3 separate regions of the Homo sapiens genome follow, and regions 2 and 3 are each linked to region 1. The links come from fine-mapping of genetic effects on gene expression. A gene starts in region 1. Each other region holds a variant in brackets. All regions are shown on one strand. Distances are from middle to middle.

The links. PIP is the estimated chance that this variant, and not a neighbour inherited with it, causes the effect.
Region 2: its variant is fine-mapped to the expression of ANXA2R-OT1 in whole blood (INTERVAL, PIP above 0.99).
Region 3: its variant is fine-mapped to the expression of ANXA2R-OT1 in thyroid (GTEx, PIP 0.92).

What each region holds. Positions count from the first base shown.
Region 1 is chr5:43,066,202-43,068,961 of GRCh38, reverse strand. It overlaps ANXA2R-OT1 (ANXA2R overlapping transcript 1), which reads left to right and starts at 1,523. Exons shown (of 3, transcript NR_104651.1): 1 at 1,523-1,664; 2 at 1,805-1,875. It overlaps LOC100132356 (a long non-coding RNA gene), which reads left to right and starts at 1,991. Exons shown (of 1, transcript NR_034127.1): 1 at 1,991-2,760. It overlaps LOC100506639 (a long non-coding RNA gene), which reads right to left and starts at 1,939. Exons shown (of 3, transcript NR_102752.1): 1 at 1,176-1,939; 2 at 745-992. RefSeq lists an enhancer at 1,912-2,311.
Region 2 is chr5:43,017,654-43,020,413 of GRCh38, reverse strand. All of the region lies in intron 2 of ANXA2R-OT1 (ANXA2R overlapping transcript 1), which reads left to right. It overlaps LOC105374748 (a long non-coding RNA gene), which reads right to left and starts at 2,269. Exons shown (of 3, transcript NR_188279.1): 1 at 1,742-2,269; 2 at 1,098-1,178. RefSeq lists enhancers at 1-33, 2,101-2,240, 1,780-2,302, 2,701-2,760. The variant TTTTTTG/G (reference allele first, on the strand shown) is at 1,553.
Region 3 is chr5:43,024,996-43,027,755 of GRCh38, reverse strand. The region is part of intron 2 of ANXA2R-OT1 (ANXA2R overlapping transcript 1); the gene reads left to right. LOC105374748 (a long non-coding RNA gene) reads right to left here. Exons shown (of 3, transcript NR_188279.1): 3 at 60-2,760. Among named protein-coding and RNA genes, the nearest start is that of ANXA2R, 14 kb to the left of the region's middle. The variant CAAA/A (reference allele first, on the strand shown) is at 1,410.

The DNA.
Region 1 (2,760 bases):
GGGCCGCAGGAGAATGTGTGCCAGCAGGGGAAAATGCCAGGCAATTATAAAACTATCAGATCTCGTGAGACCCACTCACTAACACGAGAACAGCATGGGGAAAACCAACCCCATGATTCAATTATCTCCACCTGGTCTCACCCTTGACACATGGGGATTATTACAATTCAAGGTGAGATTTGGGTGGGGACACGGAGCCAAACCATATCAGCATCTCTCCTGATTTTCCAAATGCAAATGTCTTATAGTCTCTTGCTGAGGAATATACAGTTGCCGACTTGCCCTTTCTCTGACCACCCCACACAAACACCATATTGGAATCAGACAGAATCTGAATGCCGGAACTAGAATGCCTCCTCCTTTAGGGAAGTAAGCTCCATAACTCCTGTCCACATTCCTAACCTGGAAGAGTGACCCCTTCCCTCCAGAGGTGCTGATCCCACCATTTTTGCTAAAATAGGAAGCTAGGGTGGAAACGGAGAGAGGAATGGTGGGTGAGATATTTTGTTTTTTCAAAGGCTCTGCACAGTATCTTCAATTAGATAAAGTGGCTGTAACTTTTCTTCTATTGACACTGCCCTCTTTCCTTTATTCTACTGCCTGCAAAAGAAGGCAACTGAAGAAGCCTCAAGTACCAGGGCAGGTTTTGGCTAGCTGAAGAAAGGGTAAGGTATAGGGGGGAAGACTGGAGGTGACCATCTTGGGAGTGGGTGAGAAGTGAGAGCCCAAAATGGGTCTTCTTACCTCTCTGGTACATTCTGTGCTCTTCTCTGGTCTGACATCCGCCCAGGTTCATCCAGAAAAAGATGGAAATGATTTGAACAGGATAAGCTAGGGTGAGGATTAGACACGATGAGTTCAGCTGGAGACACTCATGGTAGAGTCTGGAGGTCTCTTTGGGGGATCACTTCCAAAAGTGCAGATTTTTAGAAAAACGAGAAAGGTTCTGGAAAGGGATGTTTTCCTTCTGCTCAATGGCAGTTTCAGGTTTCCTGTAAGAAAGGAGTTTGTAGCGTCAGTATATTTGACAAATGTGGGAGAGGGAAGATTCAAGAGCTTGAAATTGCATTGCACTTCCCAAAGATGGAGAAGACATCAGGGATGAATTTCAAAGGTGATAGAAATCGGGAACTGCCCTTTGAGGATTTCAAGGGGAGAGGGAGCAAAGGCCTCACCATCAATCCACACGTCCTGTGCTAGAGTCTTGCGATTCTTATTTCCCCTACCCTCCTGCAACGATTATTCCCATATATCAAGGCCATCTGACAGAGTTAACCATCAGAATTAAATAGCAGTTCCCACAGAGTTCCATCCCCTGGAGAGGTACCTAGCTGCCGGGGCAGGCCTGAAGCCTCGGTCAGGAGGCATTGAGTCTTTCACTCTCCACGGAGGTCTTGGACTGAGAACTTCAAGTTCCAAAGGGATGAGGTGTCGGCTTCGCCCTTAGGAGCCTGGAGGGCTCTGACCAAGGAGAAGGGCGGAGCCCAGCCACTGGAAGGTTTGTTTCTTGCAGTGGAAGACGGTTGGCGACCCGGATGGCTTTTGTTACCAGGGCCAGCCCAATCCGCCCGATTCTCGGTCCCTATACTGCCTCCTTTTCCCATGCGCATCGCAAGGGATCGGTTGATGGGGCCCTCAGTATGACTTCGCTAGGAAAAATAAAGGTCTTCTTAGGCGGGAGGGGACTGATTTGAGGACGGAGGGTGGGAGTAGTGCCAGCAGCACTTTGTCGTAGTGGCACTGGGTGGGCAGTTATCAGTTGCAGTCCGCTCGTTTCTCAGTGCCCACGGTTTCTCACTGACAGTGCAGCTCGTTTCTCAGAGCCGGCGGATGTTCATGGGCAGCACCATCGAGCCAGAAGCAGTATTTGTCCTGGTAAGTCATTTCTCAACTGCCGAAGTGTACTAGGTTCCAGTCCCGCTGGTTTCTCGAATCTGCTAGTCCCACACGAGCACCAATAGGTAAACCCAGCCGGCAGTTTCCGGCTAGCACTTTCGCTATTTGAAGACATTAGGAAGTTATGTGGTGGCTCCGTACCCTCCTTTCTCCATCCGAGGCCGGGGTCCTAAAGTCGGTGTCACGGTGGCAGCACCCAGCGTTTTGTTGGCTCTTTCGCCAGCAGCGCCGAGCGGGGGGTTTTCTGTCACAGCACTTGTTGCACCGAATTTCTCGGTCGCAGAACCTCTCTTTTCCGAGGGTCGACATTTTCTGCGTGACAACACCGTTGGTTCCGCCAAAATGGATGTTGTCCTTGGGAACTCCTCCGGCTGGCGTCACTCTTAGGGTCCCAGCACCGCCATTTCGCCAAGCCGAGTTCTCTTGGTCGCGGCACATCTTGTTCCTCGGTGCCTCCATTTTCTCGGTGGCGGCAGCGCTCTGGTAGCCGATCTGAGGGATTTGGAATCGCAGCCAGTTGCGCAGAGTCTGGGGTTCCCGGGCGACGCCGGCGCTGGGCGGGGGAGCCCGCCGCTCCTCCGAGCCAGAGGCAGAGGAGCTGCGCGGACGCCGTCTCTTCACAGCGCCGCGAGCGCCGACGCACGGGTTCCTGCTCGGCCTCCTGAACCCAGTCCCCCGGCGGCGCCGCTGGCGTCTCTATCGCAGGCCCCTGCGGTTTCGCCCGTCGTTGGCTTCTTGGTCCTAGCAAGTTTCGATTTCGCGGTGCCCGCTATTTCTACCTCTTGTCCAAATAACTAGCCAAAATGTGATTTCTCAGCCTAAGCAAGTCCCGATTTAGGGCATCGGTCTAGCCCTGGCTGCGAT
Region 2 (2,760 bases), 49 kb after region 1:
AGTAGTCAAAAGAAAAACGATAACATTTTAGAGATTACATAGAACCAAAACAAACTGTAATTCCGACAGATAAACATAGCAAGAAAAGAAACCGAAATAAAACAGACACTAAGCAAACCTTGCAGAGAACTAGCTTTACAGATCGCAGCGCTTCAAGGGCCACGAACCATCTGTTCCAGGAAATGAGCATTACTGCCACCTGAAAACTGTCCGCTAGGGCTCTGAGCTACTTAACGACCGAAAGAGAAACTGGCGGCGCTGGGACTCAGCAAGCGCCGGCACCTAGCGAATAGTGCTGGTGTTGCCAAAAAATACCTGTTTTGGTGCCATAAGTGGTGCTGCCAGAGAGAAACCGTGCTCTTGGGAAACAGCGGTGCTTCCACGCCTAAACATCCTCTTCGGAGGAATGAACCCACTCCGTTTAAATGTGTTGTGTCAGAAAAATGTGTTGAGACATTTTAATGTTTTAATCCTCTTAATGTGTTTAATCCGCTTGCAGTATTTTAACCCGTTTTAATGTGTTGTGACAGAAAAAGCGCCAGCTAACGGTGCTATGAAATTACTAGTGCGTACAGCGGCTCCGTGCAATCACCGTTCTGCACAGTAAAACATGGTTTAGGAAGTTCTTTAGCAGATACTAGCGGTGCGAGAACCAAGAAAGTGACAGCACAGAGAACATAAGGACCTGGCGAATGGGAAACGTCACACTGGGCGCTAAGAACGGTGCCGTAACTGAGAAAACGCTAGTCGGCTCTACTGGCAAAAGCGCTGATGCAAAACCATCAGCTCCGCATACGAAGGAGAGCCACCAGACACAACCTGGCACCTGACAGCAGGGAGACTGAGACCGAGCTCGGCTCCCCGGATCCTGAGAGAATGTAAGTAAAGAAGCAGGAAGCTGAGACGCTCAAAATTAGTAGAAAAAAAATACATAACATTTAAATAAAATCAAAATTAAAAAAATAAAGGCTAAAATGCAAGTAAACATGGAAAGCAAACACATCGGTAACATCGTTCTCAGAGCAAAAGACAAAGAGAGAATTTAAAAATAAGCAAAAATTACAGAGAACCAATCCTAGAAAGAAGAAATTACAAACCTTGCTAAAAGATGCAATCCTACAATTGTGATATCTCTGTCAGATCTAAACCGGTACATGTTACACCTAAGTCTACATTTCCTACGAAAACAAAAACAAAAACAAACAACACCAACAAAAAAAAGCAGTCACGGTTAAACCTTTTTTACTACGACTTAAAAATCGCAGTAGCTGGTCTATTCAGACTTGGTCCACAAGAGGAAAAAGTCGCGTTCGGCAGGACTTGCTATTGCCAAACGGAGCTTGGTAACCAGAAATCGCGTTTGCGGACATTTCCTGACTTCCATGGGAGTTTAAAATACACACAAGCTTAGCTAAGGTGGGACTCAATATTGCGAAAACAAACTTGGTATAAGAGCTCCCAGGCACTGCTAAACTGATCATCGGTAAACCTAAAAAAAATCGCATTCGCGGGTACCCAGATTTCTTTTTCTTTTCTTTTTTTTTTTTTTTTT[TTTTTTG/G]AGTTGGAGTCTCGCTCTGTCGCCCAAGCTGGAGTGCAGTGGCGCGATCTCGGCTCACTGCAAGCTCCGCCTCCCGGATTCACGCCATTCTCCTGCCTCAGCCTCCCGAGGAGCTGGGACTACAGGGACCCGCCACCACGCCCGGCTAATTTTTTTGTATTTTTAGTAGAGACGGGGTTTCACCGTGTTAGCCAGGATGGTCTCGATCTCCTGACCTCCTGATCCGCCCGCCTCGGCCTCCCAAAGTGCTGGGATTACAGGCGTGAGCCACCGCGCCCGGCCGGTACTCCGAAGCCCTCAGATCGGCGACCTGGGCGCTGTAGGCACCGAGAAAATACAGGCACCGAGCCAGAAGCAGTGCCGCAACCAAGAGACCTCGGCTTGGCGAAATGGCGGCGTCTGGAGCCTGCGAGTGACGCCAGCTGGTGGGGCTGTCAAGGAGAACATTCGTTACGGCGCAACCAACGGTACTGTCACCAAGAAACCGTCGTCTCTGAGAAAAAAAGAGACGTTCGGCCGCCGAGAAACTCCGTACAAGTGCTGTGACAGAAAAACCGCCGGCTCCGCGCAGCGGCAAAAGAGCCAACGGGAACGCCGGGTGCTGCGACCATGACCCCGGCACTGGAGGACGTGGGATGGAGAATGGGACACACGGAGCGAGAAGGGAAACGTTTCGTGCAGACCAACTAGCGCCGCCGCCACCGGAAAACTGACTCGCCAGTGCTGCCAATGAAGTGCGTGTGAGAAACCGATGACTGGTGGGAGGAGCAGCGCTGGGCGCTGGACCCGCGAGTGTGAGAATCTGGCGGCGCTAGGACCCTTCAGGCGCGGGCACGAGGCGAAACCCAGCGCTGTTGCCAAAGACAAATGCGCGTTCTTTTGGGCGCCATCAGCGGTGCAGCCAGTGATCACTCCCAGGCTCTGAGAAACTAGAGATGTCAGCCACAAACCCTCCGTTCAGGGAAAGTTTGCGGCGCCGTGACGGATCGACTGGCACTGGGTGCAACATTGTCTTGTGGCCTAGAGACTAGAATATAAAAACAAAAACCAAATACAAAACTGCTGCTGGCATTACTCCTACTCTCCCCCCTCAAGTCAGTGGCTTCAGGCTTAAGAAAACCTGTATTTTTCTTGGCTGTGCCATAATCCGTAATTACCGAGGCCCCCAGCGACCCACCCAGTGTGATTCGCAGAGGGAAAGG
Region 3 (2,760 bases), 41 kb after region 1:
TTTTTAGTCTAGATACCTCCCATTTAGTTCACTGAAAGCCATTAATTGCTTTCTCTTTGTCCATGGCTGTAACAAACGTTTATTTTTATTTTGGAGGCAAGGTTTCACTCTGTAGCTCAGGCTAGAATGCAGTGGTATCATCACAGCTCACTTCAGCCTTGAACTCCTGGGCTCAAACAATTATGTTGCCTCAGCCTCCTGTGTGGCTGGGACTACAAGCAGACACCAACACATCCAGCTAATTTTTTTTTTTTTTTTTTTTTTACTAGAGATGGTATTTTACTATGTTGCCTGGGCTAGTTTTGAGTTTTTGGCCTCAAGTGATCCTCCTGCCTCAGCCTCCCATAGTGCTGGGATTACAGGCATGAGCCACTATGCCCGGCCCATAATAAAGTTTTCTAGTCTTAGAATCTTTGTACTTTATATTCTCTCATGATGGTAACTCCACCTTTTTTTTTTTTTTTTTGAGACAGGGTCTTGCTCTGTTGCCCAGGCTGGAGTACAGTGGTGTGTTCTCAGCTCACTGCAAGCTCTGCCTCCCGGGTTCAAATGATTCTCTCGCCTCAGCCTACTGAGTAACTTGAGATTACAGGTGTGGGCCACCACGCCCAGCAAATTTTCTTATATTTTTAGTAGAGATGGCATTTCACCATGTTCGCCAGGATGGTCTTGAACTCCTTGCCTCAAGTGATCCGCCTGCCTTGGCCTCCCAAAGTGCTAGGAGTACAAGTGCGAGCCACTGCACCCAGCCTAGGTTGGTTTGTTTGTTTTTTGGTGTTGTTCATTGCATTACTCATATCGAAGTGGAAGTATCTGTGACAATTCTATCCTTACTATAGTAGCTAATATAATATCCTCCTAGTTACCTTTTCAACTAAGTTGCGTTAAGTTTCTTGATAACATTTATCATATAAACACGGTTTTATTTATTTATTTGTTGTCATGCTTTTTTTTTTTTTTTACAATCCATGAAGGTGTCAAACACTTTATGGCCAAGTCCATGTCTGCTTGTTGATTACTTATCTCTGGGACCTTGTTCACTATGTAGTACAATATAGACACTTGGTATTTGTTAATGAAGACATGATAAATGTATTAAAATCTTGGGTGTGGTGGCTTATGCCTGTAATCCCAGCACTTTGGGAGGCTGAGGTGGGAGGATTGCTTGAGCCCAAGAGTTTGAGATCAGCCTGGGCAGCAGAGGGAGACTCTATCTCTACAAAATTTTTAAAATTCTCTGAGTGTATGGTGCGTGCCTGTAGCCTCAGCTACTTGGTAGGCTTAGGTGGGAGGATTGCTTGAGTCTAGGAGATTAAGGCTGAAGTGAGCAGTGATTATGCCACCACACTGCAGTATAGGTGACAGATTGAGACCCTGTCTCAAAAAGCAAACATCAACAACAACAACAA[CAAA/A]AAGGGTAGTCTCAGAGCTCTATAACTGATTATAAACCACTCTACGAAAGGATCTAAGTAAAACAATAATTGTAGATGACAAAAGTCTTACAATAGCCATGGTTTAAGACACAACTGACAAAGAAATGTGGTTATATCTATGATATATAACATTTGAATATAATAATCATAATTAGTTCTGAAAACATATACTAAGACATATCACAATCAGAAGAATCTCATACAATTTTAAAACACTAATAACACATTTACATAAATACAATGCAAAGATGGTTACATATCATTTTATATTTGATAATACTTCTTGTGTGATTATACCAACTAAGCCAAATATGTCTCTTTGGATTTCAGGGGACTCAATGTCAAAAAAACTAATGAGATGAAAATGACTGAATTTAGAATTGGATTTTGGAAAGTTTGTCAAACATCAAAGACTTAAAACACTTGATATCACAAAACAGGATCACAGGTTATCGGGGGACCTGCGCCGATAATCACGTAGGTTCTTTTCTATTTTCCTAAGCGTCGACTGGCTTGAGAAATAAAAGAACAGAGTACAAAAGAGAGAAATTTTAAAGCTGGGCGTCCGGGGGAGACATCACACATTGGTAGGATCTGTGATGCCCCACAAGCCACCGAAACCAGCAGGTTTTTTTAGGGATTTTCAAAAGGGGAGGGAGTGTGCGAATAGGTGTGGGTGACAGACATCAAGTACTTAACAGGGTAATAGAATATCACAAGGCAAGTGGAGGCAGGGCGAGATCACAGGACCACAGGACCGAAACGAAATTAAAATTGCTAATGAAGTTTTGGCACCATTGTCACTGATATTATCTTATCAGGAGACAGGGTTTTGAGATCAACTGGTCTGACCAAAGTTTATTAGGCGGGAATTTCCTCTTCCTAATAAGCCTGGGAGCGCTATGGGAAACTGGAGTTTATTTCACCTCTGCAATCTCGACCATAAGAGACAGGTACGCCCCGGGGCGGCCAGTTCAGAGACCTACCCCTAGGTGCGCATTCTCTTTCTCAGGGACGGAATTCAGCGATATTTCTCCCATTTGCTTTTGAAAGAAGAGAAATATGGCTCTGTTCTGCCCGGCTCACCGGCGGTCAGAGTTTAAGGTTATCTCTCTTATTCCCTGAACAATTGCTGTTACCCTGTTCTTTTTTCAGGGTGCCCACATTTCATATTGCTCAAACACACATGCTGTACAATTTGTGTACTTAACGCAATTATTACAGGGTCCTGAGATGATATACATCCTCCTCAACTGACAAGATTAAGAGATTAAAGTAAAGACAGGCATAGGAAATCACAAGGGTATTGATTGGGGAAGTGATAAGT